2 linked regions of the Homo sapiens genome follow. The gene in region 2 interacts genetically with the main gene of each other region. Each region holds a gene or a part of one and is shown on either strand. Other genes may lie near its edges. The genes, in order: PTGS2 and NFKB1.

Region 1 (16,438 bases), on a different chromosome or scaffold from region 2:
TCACTAATGGCACTTTGTATGGGTCCCAAGGTGTTAGTCAGGGTTTACAGTATTGCACTAAACATGATGAAAAAGACACAAGAACCATCAGAGATTACTTTTTACTGGGATACACAATTTACTGGAGAGATGAACTGCTCAAGTGGAGGTGATTAGCATCACAGGGAGGTGTTTGAAGCAGGTAACCACCACACTTGAGGGCAGTACAATACCAACAGGAGCTGGCTCTGAATTTATTACCAAAGTACAGTATGTACTACAGTTAATTTCATGCAGCTATAGTCTAATGCTACATCTTTACATTTGTTTATATTACTCTTCATTGCAAATGGCACCATGTATGGTCTGTCAGTGTTTATGTGTTAGGTTTTGAGAAATCTTAATTTTTTATAGCAGATTTGTATATATTTTATGGTAGTAAATAATAAAATAGACTAGTATCTGTATATTTCATGAATTGTGACATACCTAACCTTTTCTCTTTTTTTCAATATTTCTTGGCTACATAGTTTGTGAGATTTTTCAAATTGTCAAACATGTCTTAAAAATTTTTCCAATATATTTATTGCAAAAATTGCATATAAGTGGATCCATGCAGTTCAAACTGTGTTTTTCAAGGGCCATCTGTACATGTTTAAAAACTAGGAGACCTTAAAATTGACATATATTCAGCCCAACTGCTTATGTGTAGCTGTTGGGACTTATTAAACAATAAATGTATAGGTTGGGCAAGGTCTATGGGAAATTGATCAGGACTCCTTCTCAATAATACCATCAAAAACTAGGGTTCTTTTTAGCATTTTTTTCTTATATCATGGATATAAGACTTGTTCTTCAGGTGCAAAATGGCTGCAACAGCTCCAGTCATCACACCGAGATGACTCCCGCAGTGTCTGCAACAACAATTGCATTTTAAAAAGAGCTTTTTTAGTCTTACTCCTTTACATTTGAAAAAAAAATTAAGGGCTTCAAAAATGCTGATGACTTTGATTTTAAAATTATATTTTTAGGAAATAGCTACATGATAAAATGAAGGTCATCTAATTTTTGAAGTTGATTTCAAAGAAGATAGATTCAGCCATTTATTCAATAAGTATTGAGTACTAGTATATGCTAGTCATTTTTCTAGGTGCTTGGAATATAACAGTAAACAAAGCAGACAAAAATTTGACCTTCATGGAATTTACATATTTGGAAGGGGAAGACAGGTAGTAAACAAAATATGAAAGTAAAATATGTAGCACATTAGATGTTGATGAATACTAATAATAAATCTTGGTGAATTGTGAACCTGTTCATTCCTATGGAAAATATTAAAGGAAAATCATTTTTTGTTAAGAGGATAAGTTGAGTTTTTAGTACGGTAATATGAAAAGATCCAGGGGACAATTTCTCAAATGGTTTTGAGCTTCAGGTAAGAGTAAGGGATAGAGGTAAAGCTTTGGAAGCAAGAAACCCTGAAGTGCTTGTCGAAGCTATTGGGAAAGATGTGAACCTCTAAAACAAGAGAGTAGTGATTCAAGAGAGGAAGAAAGAGGCTTCACATAAATGCCATCTTTGGAAATGACGGGGGTGAGAGAAGGAATACATTTTTCAGATGTTTGCAAAGCAATCCTTGTCCTTAGGGTAGAGTGAGGTTTTAGTTAAGAAAGGAAGTAAACTTTCCATGAGTATCTCAATGAGCATCTGACACTATTCAATCTACACAGCATTTAACCTTGAAGCTTTTTCCCAATGATTATCAAGAATCAGCAAACAAATATGCATCGCCTTCCGCAAAACAGTCCTGTGGCTCGTGTGGTGGATGTTGTTTTCTCACACCACTAATAATGAAATGTAATATCTATAAAAGGTAGAATTAATATGCAAAATGAGTTCATTTTAAGCCCAGTTCAGAGTCACAGCAAAATTGAGCAGAAAGTACGAAGAGTTCCCATAGAACCCCTGTACCTTTCTTTACAAGAAAAGCTCATGTGCTATCAGCATTCCTCACCAGAGTGATACAATTACTATAATCAATGAATCTACATTGACACATCAGTATCACCCAAAGTCCCTAGTTTACCCCAGGGATCATTCTTGGTGTTGTGCATGCTATGGTTTTAAAAATGTATAAAGACACGTATCCACCATGTTTTTTTTTTTGTTTGTTTGTTTGTTTTTTTTTTGAGACGGAGTCTCGCTCTGTCGCCCAGGTTGCAGTGCAGTGGTGCCATCTAGGCTCACTGCAAGCTCCGCCTTCCGGGTTCATGCCATTCTCCTGCCGCAGCCTCCTGAGTAGCTGGGACTACCAGAGCCCACCACCATGTCCGGCTAATTTTTTTGTATTTCTTTTTAGTAGAGATGGAGTTTCACCGTGTTAGCCAGGATGGTCTCGATATCCTGACCTCGTGATCCGCTCGCCTCGGCCTCCCAAAATGCTGGGACTACAGGCACGAGCCACAGCGCCCAGCCTTCTATCCACCATTATAGTATCTTATAGAATAGTTTCACTGCCCTAAAAATCCTTTGCGTTCTGCCTTTTCATCCTCACCCCCAATCCCAACTTCTGGCAACCACTACTCCTTTTACTGTCTCCATAGCTTTACCTTTTCCAGAATATCATATTGCTGGAATCCTACGGTAGGTATCCTTTTCAGATAGGTTTCTTTCACTTAGTAATATATATTTAAGATTCCTCCATGTCTTAAATATATGATGGTACCACATTTTCTTTTACTGCTGACTAATGCTCTACTGACTGAATATATCACAATTAATCCGTTCTCCTTCTGAAGTACATCTTGATTGTTTCCAAGTTTTTGAAATTAAGAATAAAGTTGCCAAAAACATTTGCATGCAGCTTTTGTATGGACATACTTTTCAGCTCATTTTGGTAAATATCAAGGTGTGTGACTGCTGGATCGGGTATTAAGAGTATGTTCATTTTTGTAAGAATCTGCCAAGCCATCCTCCAAAATGGTTATACTATTTTGCATTTCCATTAGCAATGAATGAAAGTTTTGCTTGTTTCATTTCCTCACCAGTATTTTGTGTTGACAATGTTCTGGATTTTGGCCATTCCAATAGGTGTGTATTATCTCATTTTTGTTTTAATTTGCATTTCCCTGAAGACATGTGTTGTGGTAAATCTTTTCATATGCTTATTTGCCATGTATTACATGTGTATTCTTTGGCACTGTGTCTATTCAGGCCTTTGACTTATTTTTTAACTGGATTGTTTGTTTTCCTATTTTTGAGTTTTAAGACATCTTTGTATATTTTGGATAACTGTCCTTTATCTGAAATGTTTTTCGCAAATATTTTCTCCCTGTCTGGGACTTGTCTTCCCATTCGTTTTTGACAGTGAGTTTGTGAAGCAGATGTTTTTAATTTTACTGAAGTCCAAATTGTCAATTACTTTTTTCATGAATCATGCCCTTGTGTATCTAAAAAAAAATCATTGCCATACCCAAATCCGTCTAGATTTCCTTCTATGTTATCATCTAAGACTTTTATAATTTTACATTTTACATTTAGGTCTATAACCTATTTTGAGTTAACTTTTTTATTAAAAGTGTAAAGTCTGTATCAAGAGACTTTTTTATTTTTTATTTTTTTGTTTTGCTTGTTGATGTTCAGTTTTTCTAGCACCATTTGTTGAAAATGCTATCTTTGTTCCATTGTATTGCCATGTATCCCTTGTCAAAAATTAATTGACTATATTTATGTGGGCCTATTTCTGGACCCTATCTATTCTATTGATCTATTTGTCGATTCTTTTGCAAATACTATGCTGTCTTGACTACTGTAGCTTTATAGTAAGTCTTGAAGTAAGATAGTGTCAGTCCTGCAACTTTGTTCTTCTCCTTCAGTAATGAGTTGGCTTTTTTGGGTCTTTTGCCTTCCCACATAAACTTCCTTTTTTTGAGACAGGGTTCTCACTCTATTGCCCAGGCTGAAGACCAGTGGTGTTGATCACAGCTCATGGCAGCATCAACATCCTGGGCTCAGGGAATCTTCCCCTCCCAGTATCCTGAGTAGCTGGGACTACAGGCATGCACCACCAGGCCCAGCTAATTTTTTTGTAAACCCAGAGTTTCACTATGTTGCCCAGGCTGGTCTTGAACTCTTAGGCTCAAGCAATCCTCCTGCCTCAGCCTCCCAAAGTGCTAGGATAATAGGCAGGAGCCACTGTGCCCAGCCTCCATATAAACTTTAGAATAAGTTTGTCAACATCCACAACACAATATGCTGGAATTTTTATTGAAATTATGTTGTATCTATAGATTAATTTAAGAAGAACTGAAATCTTGACAATCATGAGTCTTTCTAGCTATGAACATGTAATATCTCTCCATTTATTTAGTTCTTCTGATATTTTCATCAGTTTGGTCATTTTTCTTATACAGATCTCATATATATTTAGTTAGATTTATACCTAAATATTTAATGTTGGAGGGTGTTAATGTAAATGGTAATGTGTTTTTAATTTCAAATTCCACTTGTTGATTTCTGGTATACAGGAAAGTGGTTGACTTATGTATGTTAACCTTGCATGCTGCAATGTTGCTATAATCACTTCTTAGCTCCAGGAGTTTTTTGGTCAGTCTTTATAAATTTTCTACATAGATGGTCATATCATTTGCAAACAAAAACAGTTTTATTTCTTCCTTCACAATCTGTATACCATTTATCTATTTACTTATTTATCTATTTATTTATTTTTGTCTTATTGCATTGACTAGGGCTTCCAGTATGATGATGAAAAAGGGTGATGAGTCAGGTACAGTGGATCACTCCTGTCTGTAATCCCAGCACAATGGGAGGCCGAGGTGGGCGGATCACTTGAGGTCAAGAGTTCAAGACCAGCGTGGCCAACATGGTGAAATCCTGCCTCTACTAAAAATACAAAAACTAGCCAGGCATGGTGGCACACTCCTGTAATCCCAGCTACTCAGTAAAATTGCTTGGACCTGGGAGGAAGAGGTTGCAGTGAGCCAAGATCACACCACTGCATTCCAGCCTGGGTGACAGAGTGAGACTCCATCTCAAAAAAAAATAAAGAAAGAAAGAAAAAAGAAAATGAATGGTGAGAAAGAACAAAATTGTCTCACTTCTGGTATTAGTAAGAAAGCTTCTGGTCCCCCATCATTAATTACAGTGTTAGCTATTAGTTTTTTGTAGATGTTAATCGTCAACTTGAGGAATCTTCCCTCTATTTCTACTTTGTTGTTTGTTTTTATTATGATGGGTATTGGACTTTGTCAAATGCTTTTTTCTGCACTATTAATTGTGTGATTTTTCTTCTTTACTCTGTTCATGTGATAGATTTTCAATTAAATGTTTAATGTTAAGCTAGCCTTACATACTGGGACAAATCTGACTTGGTCATGTTGCATAATTATTTGTATATATTGTTGGACTGGATTACCAGCATTTTGTTGAGTCGTTTTGCATATATGTTCATGAGAGATATTGGTATGTTATTTTATGTTCTTGTAATGCCTTTACAGTCTATGAGGTAATGCTGACCTTATAGAATGAGTTAGAAAATATTCTTTTCTGCTTCTATCCTCTGAAAATGATTACAAAGAATTGGTATAATGTTTTCTTAAATGTCTAGTAGTACTCACCAGTGAACTTATATGAGCTTGATTCTTTCTGTTTTGGAAGGTTATTAATTATCGATTCAATTTTTTAAATAGGGATAGGCCAATTCAGATTGTCAATTTCTTATTGTGTGAATTTTGGCAGATTGTACCTTCTAGAAATTCATCTAGGTTATCAAATCTGTGGTCAAAAGTTGTTCATAGTATTCCTTTATTATCCTTTCAATGTCCATGGGATCTGTAGTGATGTCTCCTCTACTATTTCTAGTTTAAAAAAAACTTTTAGATACAAGGTCTCCTCTGGTACCCAGGCTGGAGTGCACTGGTGTGATCATAGCTCACTAACCTCGAACTCCTGGGCTTAGGCAATCCTCTTGCCTTGGCCTCCCAAAGTGCCAGGATTACAGGCATGAGCCACCACAGTGGAGCTCTCAATTCTGATACTAATAATTTGTGTCTTCTCTTTTTTTCCTTAGCCTGACTAGAGTAATTAACTTTATGTCTTTTAAAAGAACCACCTTTTTGGTTTTACCCATTTTCTTTTTTGATTTTCTGTTTTTGATTTGATTGATATCTACTCTAATTTTTTATTATTTCTTTTCCTCTGCTTACTTTGAATTTAATTACTTTTCTTTTTTGTAGTCTCCTAAAATAGAAGCTTATATTATTGATTTTAGATCTTTCTTCTTTTCTATTACAGCACTCAATGCTATAAATTTCCCTCTAAGCATTGCTTTCACTGCATCCTACAATATTTCAACTCTATTGTTATTTAGCTCAAAAGAGGTTCTTAATTTCTATTGGGATTTCTCTTTGACCCATGTGTTATTCAGAAGTGTTCCGTGTGATCTCCAAATATTTGGGAGTTTTTCAGCTATCTTTCTATTATTCATTTCTTGTTTAATTCTATTGTGGCCTGAGAGCATATATTGTATGATTTATATTCTTGTAAATGTGTTAAGGTGTGTCTTATGGTGCAGAATGCGGTTTATCTTGCTATATGTTCCTTAGAGAATAATGTATGTTCTGCTGTTATTGGATAAAGTAGTCTATAGATGTCAGTTACATCTCGTTGATTAATGGTGCTGTTGAGTTCAGCTATGTCCTAAATGATTTTCTGTCTGCTGTATCTGTCTATTTCTGACACAAGGCTGTTGAAGTCTCCAACCATAATAATGAATTAATCTATTTTTCTTTGCAGTTTTATCAATTTTGTCTTATATATATTGATGCTCCATTGTTTGGCACATACACATTAAGAATTGTTATGTCTTCTTGGAGAATTTACCTTTCCATAACATGTAACATTTCCCTTTATTCCTGATAATTTTTCTTGCTCAGAAGTTTGCCCTGTTGGAAATTAACAGAACTACTCTGGCTTTATTTGATTAGTGTTAGCATGCTCTCTCTTTCTCTATTCTTACACTTTTAATGTATACTTGACTTTGTATTTAAAGTGGGGTTCTTATAGAAAACATATACTTGGTAGGGTGGGAAGTAAAATAAAAAGAAATACTTGGGTATTGGTTTGATCCACTCTAACAATCTCTATGTTTTAATTGATGTATTTAGACCATTGATACTTATTTTTTTATCCTCATCCCTGTGATTACCCAGAGAGCTGCTTAAATTGATTATTGATATAGACAAATTAATAATTAATATCTACCGTTTGTTACTGTTTTCTATTTTTCATTGCCCTTACTTTCTGCTCCTATTTTTTGCTCCTTTTTCTGTTAATTTAGGTTTTGAGTATTTTATATCATTCTATTTTCTCTCCCTTCTCAGCATATGAATTATCTTTCTTTTTGACTTTTTTAGTGGCTGCCCTGAAGGTTGCAATGTACATTTACAACCAGTCCAATTCTCCTTTCAAAAAACACAATACTGTTTCATGGCTAGTGCAAGTACCTAATAATAAGAAGTCACTCCTAATTTCTTTCTCTCATTCTTTGTATCTTTACTGTTATTCATTTCACTTGTACATAAGCTGTAATCTTTCAATACATTATTGCTATTATTATTTCAAAACATGTTATCTATTATATCTATTTAAAATAAGAAAAATAGGCCAGGTGCAGTGGCTTACTCATGTAATCCCAGCACTTTGGGAGACCGATGGATTGCTAGAGCTCAGGAATTCGAGACCAGCCTGGGCAACATAGTGAAACCCTGTCTCTACTAAAAATACAAAAAAAAAAATTGCTGGGCATGGTGGCATGGGCCTGTGGTCACAGCTACTCGGGAGGCTGAGGTGAGAGGATTGCTTGAGCCTGGGAGGCAGAGGTTGCAGTGAACCAAAATCAAGCTACTGCACTCCAGCCTAAGTGACAGAGTGAGACCCTGTCTCAAAAAAAAAATGAAAAAGAATTATTTTTATTTATCTTCACTTATTTCTTCTCTAATGCTCTTTGTTTCTTTAGTATGTAGATCCAAGTTTCTAACCTGTATCATTTTTCTTATCTCAATAACTTCTTTTAACATTTCTCACAAAGCAGATCTACTGGCCACAGAATGCCTCAATTTTCATTTGTCTGAGAAAACCTTATTTCTCCTTCACTTTTGAAAGATAATTTTGTAGGGTACAGAATTCTAGGTTGTAGGTTTTTTCCCCTCAAAGTGAAATATTTCATTCCACTCTTTTCTTCTTTGTATGGTATCTGAGAAGAAGTCAGATGTAATTCTTATCATTATTACTTAAAAGATTGCTTCTGTTCCTTTCTCTCTTCTCCTTCCCTTCTTTCCTTCTCTGTATATTACACCTTTTATAGTTGCCCCATATTTCTTAGATATTATGTTTTGGTTTTCTTCTGTGTTTTTTTCTTTGATTCTCAGTTTTAGAAGTCTCTATTTATATATCTGCAATCGCAGGGATTCTTTCCTCTGCCATGTCCAGTCTACTAATAAGCCCTTACAGACATTGTTGACTTCTGTTCCAGTGTTTTTGATCTCTAGCATTTCTCTGATTATTTCTTGGAATTGCCATCTGTCTACTTACATTACCAACCTATTCTTGTGTGTTGTCTTATCATAGTAATTGCAGTTGTTTTAATTTCATAGGTATTGTAATTTCAACATCTCTACCATATTTGACATTGATTCTGATGCTTGCTCTGTCTTATCAAGCTATGTTTTTGTCTTTTAGTGTGACTTCTAATTTTTTGTTGAAAGCCAGGCATGATGTACTGAGTGAAAGAAACTCAATACATTGTAATGTGACGATAAGAGTTCAGGGGAAGTGAAGCATTCTATAGTCCTATAGCAGGTCTCGGCCTTTTAGTGAGCCTGTGCCTATGAACGGTGACTTTCAACAAGTGCTTTTCATTCCACTCTTTTCCTGTCCTTAAGTGGGACAAGATCACTGGGGGGGGGCTAGAATTGGGTATTTCCCTTCTCCAATGTAGAAGCTAAAGAGAGGGCTGGAGTTGGGTATTTTTCTTCCCCTGTATGGAAAGCTAGAGGCAGTTAAATTTGGATATTTTCCTTCTTCTAATTCAGTTAGGCTGCGACAAAAATCCCGACAGTTTAGGCTCTAATATTATAAAATAATTTCTCTTGAGTATAGGCCTTATTAAGAACACTATACTCTGATGGAGCTGAGGGGGAGTTTTCTCTGATATTCACTGCGAGAACCTCGTAGAGCTCCAGGAAGCAAAACTCACAAAAGTGTGGGAGTCTTCCAGAATTTTTCCTTTGCAGACTTATCTGCACTGAACCTCCAGAAATTCATCAATTACAGTTCAGGTTTTCCTACCCAGGTACTGGTTTTCATGGAGGTTTCTGCCTGTGCATTTCTGCTCCAGTAAGTTGTTCTTCTTGTATGGTCTGTCTTTCAAATTTTTTAAGTAGGGTTATGACCTGTCGCCTCACTTCTCTGACAGTTCTGAGAGTGTTGATTTTTCAGTTTGCTTAGATTTTTACTTGTTTTTAGGATGAAGTGACAATTTCCAAGCTCCTCCCTGACATGCCAGATCAGAAACTGAAAGTCCTAAGCCTCATATTCTGTGCGTGGGTATGTTCACATCCTGCCTGCTCCAGTGCCCCCACCTCACACTCTCTTTCCCTTCCTTGTCCCCTTGTGAGATTTCTAGGTCCAATACAAAGACTGTGTTCAACTCATTCAACTACTTTGGCTCATCTGAGTATTATAATGAACAATCACAAAAAAAAATGAAGTAAAAGAAAAATCCATCAAAGAATTGAGATATTTGAGAAAAAGAAAGGAGATCAGTGTTTTATAAAACTTAGAAATAGATTTTTTAAGTGTTTCTTCATTGACTTATGTGAAAGGACTTTTCTTAATTTAACAAATTATGTGCTTTCGTTTATAGCCTCAAAACTTCTTGTGTAGCTAAGAATGGGTAAATAATCAGGCTTTACTAAAGGACTAACGTAAAGATCTTCTGTAAGTAACATTTCTGCTACTCAAGGAAGAGATAAACTTCATGGCATAACCTTGCCAAAGTATACTAAGAATAACCCTGACACAAAGCTCTTTTTTCAGCCAACATGCCATGAAAGAAAGAAGACAAGGGGTGATCTCCACTCTCTAAGTGAACCACTAAACCCACCAAAGAAGAAACGAGGGAAATAGAAAGAGGACCCTTGCCTGAGATAATGGATCTGTATGTATGAGTAGTAGAACCCTGCTCAAAGTACAAGGAAGGGAAAAAAAAGTTAGTTTATTTGGAATTTTGGACATTAAGAGTCTTTATTGTTCATTTTCTTTTAACTCACATGAATGGCTTATCACTTCAATTAATAAATATTTCATTTCTTTTCAACATATTCATGAAACAAATCTGAAATGAACAGTGCAACATGTGAATGTTTAGAACATTATAAAATTAAACACAAAATCTGTCTGGCAATCTTCCTAGCATCTTAGGAAAAAAGTTGACAAAATTTCAAGCAGCAGAAGGGGGCAGTAAAACTCAACAGAAAGCTCTGGAAGATTTTTAAGATTCTTCCTTATTTTCTTTTCATGTAGATTATTTCCCAACAAATTTCAGACGCTAATAGAAATTTTGTACAACAGATCCATATATTTGCCTAAAATAGACACAGAAACATTGAATATATGCAAACATGAGAGCTATAAGTTTTACATGATCAAACCTTTTTTTTATGGTACACAATAGTCACAGTACTTTTCCATATAAAACAGGTTTAGTGGTCTTAATTTAGTTTGGCACATTTAATACACTCCCATGACCAGCATCCCAAATGTACCTATCCGTTTTATTTTATTGTCTCAGAATTGTCAGTTATTTAATAAATTATGTAACTTTTTTCCTTATGCTCAGATTTGCACTTCTTTCTAAAACTCTGCCCATCCTTAAAGTCCCAGATTCTCCTTGAACTTTTTTTTTTGACTTTCCAAGTACATGGAACTCTTCACTCTATCCTGCTATATAAGTGACAGAATTTCCACTATGGGATAGATGGAGTTCAATTCCTTTGAGTTTAAAATAATCTAAATATAATTATTCCTTATGCCCTGTTTTTCCCTCACTTTTGTATCCAAATCTCTTTTCAGACAACAGAACAATTAATGTCTGATAAGGAAGACAATGATGATGATCACTTCAAAATGAATTCAGGATTGTAATGTAAAATTTTAGTACTCTCTCACAGTATGGATTCTAACATGGCTTCTAACCCAAACTAACATTAGTAGCTCTAACTATAAACTTCAAATTTCAGTAGATGCAACCTACTCCTTTAAAATGAAACAGAAGATTGAAATTATTAAATTATCAAAAAGAAAATGATCCACGCTCTTAGTTGAAATTTCATGTAAGATTCCATGCAATAAATAGGAGTGCCATAAATGGAATGATGAAATATGACTAGAGGAGGAGAAAGGCTTCCTAGATGAGATGGAATTTTAGTCATCCGTGTCTCATGAAGAATCAGATGTGTACACTAAGCAAAACAGTTAAAAAAAAAACCTCCAAGTGAGTCTCTTATTTATTTTTTTCTTATAAGACTTCTACAAATTGAGGTACCTGGTGTAGTTTTATTTCAGGTTTTATGCTGTCATTTTCCTGTAATGCTAAGGACTTAGGACATAACTGAATTTTCTATTTTCCACTTCTTTTCTGGTGTGTGTGTATATATATATGTATATATACACACACACATATACATATATATATTTTTTAGTATCTCACCCTCACATGCTCCTCCCTGAGCACTACCCATGATAGATGTTAAACAAAAGCAAAGATGAAATTCCAACTGTCAAAATCTCCCTTCCATCTAATTAATTCCTCATCCAACTATGTTCCAAAACGAGAATAGAAAATTAGCCCCAATAAGCCCAGGCAACTGAAAAGTAAATGCTATGTTGTACTTTGATCCATGGTCACAACTCATAATCTTGGAAAAGTGGACAGAAAAGACAAAAGAGTGAACTTTAAAACTCGAATTTATTTTACCAGTATCTCCTATGAAGGGCTAGTAACCAAAATAATCCACGCATCAGGGAGAGAAATGCCTTAAGGCATACGTTTTGGACATTTAGCGTCCCTGCAAATTCTGGCCATCGCCGCTTCCTTTGTCCATCAGAAGGCAGGAAACTTTATATTGGTGACCCGTGGAGCTCACATTAACTATTTACAGGGTAACTGCTTAGGACCAGTATTATGAGGAGAATTTACCTTTCCCGCCTCTCTTTCCAAGAAACAAGGAGGGGGTGAAGGTACGGAGAACAGTATTTCTTCTGTTGAAAGCAACTTAGCTACAAAGATAAATTACAGCTATGTACACTGAAGGTAGCTATTTCATTCCACAAAATAAGAGTTTTTTAAAAAGCTATGTATGTATGTGCTGCATATAGAGCAGATATACAGCCTATTAAGCGTCGTCACTAAAACATAAAACATGTCAGCCTTTCTTAACCTTACTCGCCCCAGTCTGTCCCGACGTGACTTCCTCGACCCTCTAAAGACGTACAGACCAGACACGGCGGCGGCGGCGGGAGAGGGGATTCCCTGCGCCCCCGGACCTCAGGGCCGCTCAGATTCCTGGAGAGGAAGCCAAGTGTCCTTCTGCCCTCCCCCGGTATCCCATCCAAGGCGATCAGTCCAGAACTGGCTCTCGGAAGCGCTCGGGCAAAGACTGCGAAGAAGAAAAGACATCTGGCGGAAACCTGTGCGCCTGGGGCGGTGGAACTCGGGGAGGAGAGGGAGGGATCAGACAGGAGAGTGGGGACTACCCCCTCTGCTCCCAAATTGGGGCAGCTTCCTGGGTTTCCGATTTTCTCATTTCCGTGGGTAAAAAACCCTGCCCCCACCGGGCTTACGCAATTTTTTTAAGGGGAGAGGAGGGAAAAATTTGTGGGGGGTACGAAAAGGCGGAAAGAAACAGTCATTTCGTCACATGGGCTTGGTTTTCAGTCTTATAAAAAGGAAGGTTCTCTCGGTTAGCGACCAATTGTCATACGACTTGCAGTGAGCGTCAGGAGCACGTCCAGGAACTCCTCAGCAGCGCCTCCTTCAGCTCCACAGCCAGACGCCCTCAGACAGCAAAGCCTACCCCCGCGCCGCGCCCTGCCCGCCGCTGCGATGCTCGCCCGCGCCCTGCTGCTGTGCGCGGTCCTGGCGCTCAGCCATACAGGTGAGTACCTGGCGCCGCGCACCGGGGACTCCGGTTCCACGCACCCGGGCAGAGTTTCCGCTCTGACCTCCTGGGTCTATCCCAGTACTCCGACTTCTCTCCGAATAGAGAAGCTACGTGACTTGGGAAAGAGCTTGGACCGCTAGAGTTCGAAAGAACTCCGTGGATATTCCAGCTTTCCCACAAGCACTGATCATTATGAGCCAGTTACTTAACCGATCTGAGACACTCTCACCTCCTAAATAGGGATAGATGATACTAATTTGCAGGTTGTCATTATGATAAGACAGGATCTGATCAATATATGTGAATTGTTTATATTTGGAACCTTTTTATTGAGTGGAAGAAGTTGTTTTAAATATTCTAGTCAGTTCTTTCCTGCTCCCAGGAAAGCCCGGATTATGTTTTAAGATAAGCAAAATGTCTTAAAAGTAAGCTGTTTTACTTTGAATTTTTCCCTAAATGTTGATTAGTGTACTAGATCCATTTTAATTTGGAAAGTGAAGTGCTACTTATTTGAACTTCTTAAAAATGCTAATTTTAACATCTAAAGAGTTAACTAAGAAAAGCTTAGTAACATGATGTACCAAGTTGAATATGCTGTTATCCTTATTTAGAATAGAAAATTGGTATTTCTACGTTTTATCCATTCTAAGGCAGGTTAAAAAATTGTATTTCCATGACTACCTATATATTTCTTGAATTTATTATTGTAAAGTTGATTCATAGTCAAACAATTAAATGTTTAAATTAAGATTAAGACACTAGAGAATGATTTATTTGCTGTCCTTTAATTGCAGCAAATCCTTGCTGTTCCCACCCATGTCAAAACCGAGGTGTATGTATGAGTGTGGGATTTGACCAGTATAAGTGCGATTGTACCCGGACAGGATTCTATGGAGAAAACTGCTCAACACGTAAGTTTGTCCTTTGGTTGCCTCATTAGGAGTGGGGCTGGATACAGTTATCATTGTATAGATTTGTGTCTTATAATGAGTCCCATTAATTTCTCCCTCCCTTTCTTCGTCTTCTTGCAGCGGAATTTTTGACAAGAATAAAATTATTTCTGAAACCCACTCCAAACACAGTGCACTACATACTTACCCACTTCAAGGGATTTTGGAACGTTGTGAATAACATTCCCTTCCTTCGAAATGCAATTATGAGTTATGTGTTGACATGTAAGTACAAGTGTCTTTCTAAGGTTTTTAGCCTTCTCAAAGAAAAATATGCTTTATAATACTGTAAGCCTAATCTAAAAACATATTTCCAAGCTTATCAAAAAGACTTTAAGATAGCTTTTAAGTTTGCCTTCCATCTTAATCGCCAAAAATATTGACATTTAGTCCCATCCAGTTTATACAGTCTGCTCACAACTCTGTATACCTCTTCTAACCTTTACTGTTTGGTCAGTTTGTGGAGGTAGCATGGTCCAGCTGTTTATTGAATGCCCATGGGCCACAGAATTGTTCTGAACATGTAGCACCCATTAAAATAAATTTGGATTTGGATCAGCAAGAAAATAACTTTCCATGATTCTAAAGTGGGTGCCATACTCAGCCATTCCTTTCATAGGCCTCTTGGATAGTGAGCAGATGGCTACCTGAAAAATCAATATTGCCAGATTATAATGTGCAGAGTATATGTATTTTATTAAAGATGTATTTCAAGTGGCCATTAGACTATAAAGTGTAGTTGTTTAAAAATAGATTTTTTTTATTTTGGAGTTACATTCAACCTCAGGTGCCACTTTCCACATTTTACAATAAAAATAATGGTTGATTTACTTAACAAATGAGAATAAATAAAACATTTTTTTCTTTGAAAATTTCAGCCAGATCACATTTGATTGACAGTCCACCAACTTACAATGCTGACTATGGCTACAAAAGCTGGGAAGCCTTCTCTAACCTCTCCTATTATACTAGAGCCCTTCCTCCTGTGCCTGATGATTGCCCGACTCCCTTGGGTGTCAAAGGTGAGTAAGAAGAATCCATTAGAGATGTATTAACTATAAGACGGGCTGCATTGCTGCCAAAAAAAAAAATTGACCTTAGACTACCATTTATTTATTAACAAAAGCAGTTTTTACTTTTAGCATGGTTATCTATGGGTATTTTTTAAAGTATGAGTCTATATAAACTATTATGTAAAAGCAAATGAGCGTCTTGGTATAATGTCTTAATATTTTCAAATTATTTCTTTAGAAATGAAATAATTCTAATTAAAATAGATAAAATCATTCAGTAAGAAGTTGTTCCACCATATCTTAGAACTGTTGTTTATATTATGATCCTATTCACAATTGTAATTCTCATATAAATGAAGAATTCTTGGTAGATTGACAGTCACCATCTCCTTTCTTGAATACATAGATGGATTCTTACCTTAGCTTTCTCATTTTTCAGGTAAAAAGCAGCTTCCTGATTCAAATGAGATTGTGGAAAAATTGCTTCTAAGAAGAAAGTTCATCCCTGATCCCCAGGGCTCAAACATGATGTTTGCATTCTTTGCCCAGCACTTCACGCATCAGTTTTTCAAGACAGATCATAAGCGAGGGCCAGCTTTCACCAACGGGCTGGGCCATGGGGTAAGATAGAGTTAATATCTTAGAGTTAGTAAAATTATACCAAATCATAGTCAAGGGCTAACATTAAAGGAGATATACAGATAGATAGATCCAAATAACTTATCCACTTTTTTTAAAAAGAAGTCTTATCTATAAAAACCTTAAAGGAATTTTCCATTTACTTCACTGGTCTAGTAAAATTATACACACACACAGACATGCACACACATATATAAACATTCACACACATACATATGTACAGGTATTGTTATTTGTAATTTGACCCTTGTATTTTTTAGTTTAAAATGTTAGTACTGCAAAATGTTATGTCCTCAAAAACACATTGTACCATGATTATGCCGCTTTCAATATTGTAAAGTGAGGTTTTTGCCGCATTATTATTTTTTGGATTTCAATAGCATAGCTTCAAGTTATTCGTAAGAATTTTTTATAAATAATACATTTTTATACTTTTTTATAATTACCATATCATCATAGTGAAGTATATAATATATATGATATAAGCTCAATATAGTATATTAATTCCGTTAAACACAAAGACATATCAGTTTGTAGCTTTGGTGGATAAACAAATTAATTTAGCAATTCATGGCTATGAAAAATGTATATTTTATTTAAAAATTTTAAAGAAAGC
Region 2 (7,246 bases):
AAGTGGCATGAACAGAGGAAAGAAAAGAGCATTGAAAAGAGACAACAGAGACCTGACTATTCAAATATTTTAAACATCATCAAACTTAATGTATTCTGTCTCTTTTTTTCTCAAATAGTACACTTCTGAAATCATTTTGAGTTTTATAGGATCGGTCTTTTCCCATCAAGTCATCCCCTGAGAAGCTGCAGTTAAACCACATGTTGATAGTTTATATTACAGGTCCATTCTAGTGTACCCATGGAAGAAATAATACTATAAAGAAGTCTTCCCATTTATTGAATACCTATTTTTGTGCCAAGTGCTTTTACATGTTTTAACTGTTATCTTCATGACTGCTCTATATGGAAAATAGTAACTCCATTTTGCACACAAAAGGCATCAAAGTTCAGAAATGTTCGTACTCACTGAAGGCACACAGAAGTTAGTGGCAGAACAAGAATTTGAAGCAGGTCTCCTGCAGAAAAGCTAGATGCTCTCATAGTATCTGTCAGATAACATAGTTGAACCTGAAAGAGGGTGATCAGGAATGGTACACTGGATAACTCCCACACTAAAGAATGTGAGTCGACAACACGTCTTTATGATTTGCTTTGTTCATTAGCATTAGGAAAAAACTGCTCTGTTTTCAAGAACTTTAAAAATTCAGCTTTCCTGCAATTCATAGAAGAGCTTTATTTCATTTTTCTCCTTTACAAATAAGCAAAATGAGATTTAAGATTTTAGAAGTATACTAAAAATGATTTTTAGAAATGAGTTTAGAATATCTCCAAAACATGGTATTTATGATATGACCATTTTTAAAAGAATTTTAAATTATTATTTTTCTTTTCCTTTTGCAGCAAACTTGTCTCTTACCTTTATCTGACCTACATTGGAATAGCGAATTATCACTAAATACATTTTACTGAGAAAAATCTGATGTTTTTGCATTTATCTTAGGAACCATGGACACTGAATCTAAAAAGGACCCTGAAGGTTGTGACAAAAGTGATGACAAAAACACTGTAAACCTCTTTGGGAAAGTTATTGAAACCACAGAGCAAGATCAGGAGCCCAGCGAGGCCACCGTTGGGAATGGTGAGGTCACTCTAACGTATGCAACAGGAACAAAAGAAGAGAGTGCTGGAGTTCAGGGTAAGTGAGCACACAAATTACGTTCTGTTGGTTGGCTGGGGAGGGGTCAGTCCTAGGTGCAGAAAGATATCTGCTAATCTAAAGATGATATATCAATATCTAGTTTAGTGTACTCTTCAAAGTTCTGTATGCCTTTGGAAAAGCATATGTCAGATCATTTTATTCACACTGGGATTTCCATTTTTGCTCTGTTATCTTTGAATGTAAAGGACAGAAATTTATATGTACATTCTCCAGTCATAATCATGCAGTTTTAGGGTATTGTGAGAGATAATCAACTTCTTTTCTGGCACAGATAAATAGAGAAGTATTTCCACAAGCTTAATAGTCACCCTGTCTAGATTCTGGCTTAACCGTCATACTGAAATAGAACTTTGCCTTAAAATAGGAACTTTTCTTTTTATCTTGTGCCCTCTTTGAAGAAGTAGGATTAGGAGAAAATGTACTTTTGCGTTTACTGTGAACCAATACTTATTAGCATATGTGTCATGATTCTAGGTCATCCTAGATCGTACTAAGAAGACGTCTATAAAAGCAAAGGTAGTAAATATTTAGAGTTGGTGGCCACATGTGGTGTCTATCACATATGCTTTTTTTTTACACCCCTTTAAAAATGTATAAGCCATGATTAGCTAGGGAGCTATATGAAAAGCAGGCCATAAACAGGTTTTGGCCCAAAGGTCACAAATGCCATTCCCTGACCTTAATGGAACAAACTTTACAAAAACGTGAGTGGCTCATTGAACGTCTCTGTTTATGGCAGAGATGTGTGTTTTTTCACACATTGCCTAACAAGCTAATTGTTAGAGATTCCAATGAAGGATTATTTCACCAAGATATTGGTGATTTAAAATCATGGTAAAATCTAACATTGTTTGGAGATTGTTTTCCTTAAAATAACAGATAATGGTCGTTCCCTTAAAATAATACATTTCTAAACTTTTTTCCTCTAACAAATCATACACAGATTCTTTAAGATCAATCTCTAACTATATTTGTCAGTGACCCAGTGTCCAATTCTGCTTTTTCTAGTCCACACAATCCAAAAGCATTGAAAGAACATTTTCAACTAAAATGATATGTCAAGGTGTCAGAACACTGATGCTGGTCAGTTTGTCCTTAAGCATGCCATACCCATAAAACAAAAGTAGGAACACTCAACTATGATTGTGGTCATTGCCTTACAGATAACCTCTTTCTAGAGAAGGCTATGCAGCTTGCAAAGAGGCATGCCAATGCCCTTTTCGACTACGCGGTGACAGGAGACGTGAAGATGCTGCTGGCCGTCCAGCGCCATCTCACTGCTGTGCAGGATGAGAATGGGGACAGGTAAGTCAGAACTTTTGCATGATAGGTTGTCCTGGGTGGGGAAGAAGAAGAGCATCGTATAATGCATACTGACTAGAGATAAAAATAATTGTTCAAATATATTGAGTCCTCTAACTGGAATGATGAAGAAAAATAATGTGTGAATAAGGTTAAGTAGCACAATTTGCTGCTCCATCCTGCTGCTGTCATCTGTTGGAATCTGTAGTAGCTGGAGGACTCATCTAAGAGTGAATCTCTCTGGGCAAGAAAACTAAGATGTGTGTAGGTAATGGTACTTTTTGAAAAGCCTTGCTTTGTTTATTGAAGTAATATTTGGAGAATTGTTAAGAGTCCTACCAAATCCCTGAAGCATTGTTATCCCAGCTGCATATTTATGACAGTGTACTCAAGAAAAAGCCCAATAAAGGCAGCAACAACAACAGAAAGATTAAGAGGGACTGGTCATTATTTCCCAGTTACTGGTTTCTTCTCTGCTCCCTCTTCTGATGGTCATCAGTCTATGACTGTTTCAGACTTTTGTGACTGCTCCAGCCCATATGTGGGAGTGGAACATTCCAAACACCATGCCTTCCATTCTTGCTATTACTGAGATTGTATTTGCAAAGCCACCTGGCTTCTTTCTAAAACAGTTCTCTTAGTCCTTTCATTGAGACTTCTAAAATGATCTCAAAAGCCTATAAAAATAACAAGAGACAGCAGCCTTCACATTCAAGTCAAGTGCCTTATCTAAAACCTTCCTAAAATAGCATCAACATAGAGAAATCCTTTTCTGTGGAAGAGCTCTTGAGTGCTGTGTTTTAGACTTCAGTTTAAAAATTAAACCAAGCACTTTAGGAAAGTAACAACCTCAGGGTTTCAAGCAGAGACACCTTTGTTCTCATTCCTTGCAACGTAACCAAGGATGTGGTATAACCACTGGCCTTGTTATACAGTATGAGAGGAACCAGTACAACCTTCTTGGTATAAAGCCATGAACAGCAGAATTCTTTTTCAGGGTTAAATAATCCAGTTAGCATTCAGTAGCATACAACCACAAGAAAAAGCAGTTAACCAAGACAGTACAGCAGTGTTTCAAGTGGCATTTCCAGGGACCTGTTAAATTGATAAGTCTAAGAAGATGAGCACATACAGGTTAGAAAGGAAGTGCTGATATCTGAAGGGAGGATTGTTGGAAGGGATACAAGGCGAGGCACATGCAAGTTCCCTCCTAAGACCCAAGCACACTCACACAAGCCGGCTCTCAGAGAGGCCACAGATTTGGGACTTGGAGAGACCAGAGGATCCTCATAAGAGCATAGGTATAGGGCAGCTTTTGGCCATCACAGCCCAAGTCTCTTGTTTTAATTCAGCTCGTCATATTTGGCTAATAGTTTAAATCCTGTGGCCATTAGTCATCATAGAAAATATAATAAAGAAAAATATATAAAACTTCTGCTATTGGGGAAATTCCCATAAGGGTGTGAGGATTTGAGGGGGAGGGGGAATGTACTTCTGCTATGAAATGCTGAGCGGCACATGGAAATTTTCGAGCAGTTTTAGAAGTATGACCTTTTTCTTGGTGTATGTGCATCATGTCTATGTCAGAGTTTAGGCCCTTTTCAGAAGTCTTCTTCCAGTATCACATTTCAAGAAGCAATAGTGAAACCCTGAGATCATCCGTTTTAAAATATTTCTCAAGTAGCAAAATCACAATTTAGTTTTTTAGGCTCTTCTGTGCCGGAGTTAATCCCAAGTACGATATACTTGCTATTGCTAAGGAAGAGGCTTGAGTAAAGTGGCACCTGATAGCTTATTTTAGAGAAGATCCAGCCTGTACCTCGTGTCCCAGATGTAGTGCTGCTGCGAGATGCTTTAGTGTGCTCTGCACCTCAATCTGTCCATGCTCTGGAGTGGTCATCTTCTTAGACATTCATCTGAATGTCTTTAGAACAGTGCACATGTATCCCCTATGCAGGATTGCTTAAGGGATTAAGAGATGGCTTTGGAGTAAGACAGGCCTGGGCTTGAATCCCAGCTTCACCACGTATTGGCCTTGACTGAGTTATATGACGCCTGCAAGTCTCAGTTTCATTAGCTGAAAAGTGAAGATAATATTACCTAACTCATAGGATTATTGTTATAGTAAAAAGACAATATATATCAAATGCTTAGCATAGTCTGGTAAATCAAAGCTCCCAACAAATAGTAGCCACTGGTAAAATGATTGTTATTGTTATTGTTTTGAATTTTAATAGTATGTTTTTTAATAATTAAAAGAATTACGCTCCTGTGAGTGACTTTGACACCACCAGTATGTTCAGCCTCATTAGCGTAAGCTCTTAAGTTCCTTCTATCATTCTTATTTTTGTGCCTCTACTGCATGCTAGGGTTGTAAGGCTGACTCAGACAGAACCTGCCCCAGAGATGACAGGACAGAGAACGAGAAAAATGTGTAGAAAACTGCAGTTGCATAACCAAGCAGTAAATTTGAGAGGGACAACTTGCTCCACCTAGGAGGTTAGGAAAGTATTCTCTGAGGATGTCAGGTTTGAACTGGAATATAAAGGATGGAGTAGGCATTGTTCAGGCAGAAGAAAGGAGCAAAAACATTCCAGGCAGAGGGAATATTTGCTGGAATGTTTGCAGGAGTGGTGGGAAATACAATCACTTTGTTTCTTCACAAGTTTACTGCAAGAATTTTCTTCCAGTAGTTAAAAGCTTCACTCCATTCTCCACTCTTGGGATCTGGAAAGATCTTTAAAAAACCACCACACTGTATTTTGGAGGAGGGCAGCAGGGCTAAGTGAGGTAACTAAGTTTTTCTGAACAATTCCTAGTGCCAGGCATTCATTTTACATAGAATCTGTGTGTCAGGAAAAGTCAGGGGGAAAGGTAGAGAAGAAAACCGCCCAAAGCCATGGTATAGAGGCAGGATTGGGATTTAAGCTTAGGTCTTTCTGGGCTGGAAGCCTCAGTGTGTTTATACATCAAGGGGTCAAGACCTGAATGCTCCCAGAGGCCAGGAAGGTACCACAAATAACGTAGCAGCCTTGGGTAGGCAGTTGGGAGGGACCAGTCCTCTGGAGACAGCATCCCACCTCAGATTCAATGCATTTTATAGATTCAAAACATTTTAGGGCCAAATAAAACTAGGTATGAGAGCAGATTCCATTCTTGAGTCTAATCACATCTTGGGAATCTTTTCTTTTTCATTAACATTTTAGTTAATTATTGCCACTGTGTTTTCATTCCAGTGTCTTACACTTAGCAATCATCCACCTTCATTCTCAACTTGTGAGGGATCTACTAGAAGTCACATCTGGTTTGATTTCTGATGACATTATCAACATGAGAAATGATCTGTACCAGGTAAGCAGAAATCTCAAGAAAACAACTGAAGAAAAATCTGTAGTTTACTTTTTCTTCTGTTATGTTTGGGTGCATGTTATTTTTAGTAATGTTAACAGTAGCAAAAACAAAAACAAACCTTTGTAGGTAATATCTAAAATCCCATTAGTTGAGAATGTTACTTTATGATGTAGGATCCTTTGATCTGTGGGTATAACAGCCATCAAGCCACAATGAAATTCAGCATCCCGCTGGGGGAAGGCAAACTTTAAACTTTAGAAATCAAACAGTTTTTTCATTTAAGAGGGAGAAACTAAAGTAAAAATGTCACATCTGTCAAGAAAAATAAAGTTAAAAAAAGTTTGAAAAGCCAGTAATTTATAATAATTTTGAAGTCTACTGAAACATACCTTGACAACATCCAGATTAAATGTATATCAAATGAAGCATTCTGAAATCACCACACAGAAAGGTTAAAAGTTTGCTTGAGGAGGAAAAGGTGTCTTTCAAAAGCAGAAAGACAGCTCCAAGTGAGGAAAAGTGGGAACACCAGAGTTTTGCCCAAATCAGGTTTTCTTAGGAATTAATTAGGTGGGCTGAAAATACAAGTTGAGGAACTGTTTTTTCCAGAGGTCTTCCAACACTGCAAAGGGAGAGTTAGCTGGAGACACAGCGAGGCCCTTTGATGGGCATATGCAGAATTCAGGGAGAGGCAAGGAGCCTGGGAGCCACTTCGGCAGAAGCAGAGCTTGGACGTTGGTGATGGGAGCCCAGTGACCCCAGCCAGCCTTTCTGGCTGAGCGACTGCACTGGCATGAAACCAAGATGGGGTTCGGCTCCTGAGGTTTCCTCCTTCCTGCCCCTGATTGCTTTTCCCACCTCACTGTCTTTCCCCTACTCCCACCAGTCTGCTGTATGGGGCTCCTGCCCTTGCCCACTTCTTACCTTTCCATTTGTCTCCTTCCCTTCATCGACCCGAAGCATCTTCCTCATCCTCCTTGGAGAGATGGTTTGCTGGTTCACGTGTATCTCTCACTCCAAAACTATGGCCAAAATCCTGTGTAATTATTTACTTAGTAAAGATATTTGTTCCTGCTCTCTCAGTTTTTATAGCAGTGATGTGAATCATTTCTATTTCCTCACTTTAAAGGAAAATGCTTTTATTATTTTAAAGAAAATTAATTAAAACTTCATTTTCTTTAAAGGAAATTAAAATATCTATTTTCTTATTTTTATTTCCATTCTTTAAAATGTGCTTTAGGCTGGGTGCGGTGGCTCACACCTATAATCCCAGCACTTTGGGAGGCCGAGGCAGGCGGATCATGAGATCAGGAGATCGAGATCATCCTGGCTAACATGGTGAAACCCCGTCTCTACTAGAAATACAAAAAAAAAAAAAAAATTAGCCAGGCATGGTGGCAGGCGCCTGTAGTCCCAGCTACTCGGGAGGCTG

What was found.
Region 1: changes in NFKB1 (region 2) and PTGS2 together harm fitness less than expected from each alone (positive genetic interaction), as found in Homo sapiens cells (one study listed by BioGRID).

Annotation. Positions count from the first base shown.
Region 1 is NC_000001.11:186,677,015-186,693,452, reverse strand, and holds the start of PTGS2 (prostaglandin G/H synthase 2 precursor), read left to right. Parts: upstream 1-13,029; 5' UTR 13,030-13,162; coding exon 13,163-13,214; intron 13,215-14,014; coding exon 14,015-14,131; intron 14,132-14,251; coding exon 14,252-14,395; intron 14,396-15,048; coding exon 15,049-15,192; intron 15,193-15,622; coding exon 15,623-15,804; intron 15,805-16,438. UniProt on the Homo sapiens protein: Dual cyclooxygenase and peroxidase in the biosynthesis pathway of prostanoids, a class of C20 oxylipins mainly derived from arachidonate ((5Z,8Z,11Z,14Z)-eicosatetraenoate, AA, C20:4(n-6)), with a particular role in the inflammatory response.
Region 2 is NC_000004.12:102,595,196-102,602,441, forward strand, and holds part of NFKB1 (nuclear factor NF-kappa-B p105 subunit), read left to right. Parts: intron 1-942; coding exon 943-1,137; intron 1,138-2,324; coding exon 2,325-2,466; exon of another isoform or gene 2,467-4,540; intron 4,541-5,699; coding exon 5,700-5,814; intron 5,815-6,449; exon of another isoform or gene 6,450-6,836; intron 6,837-7,246.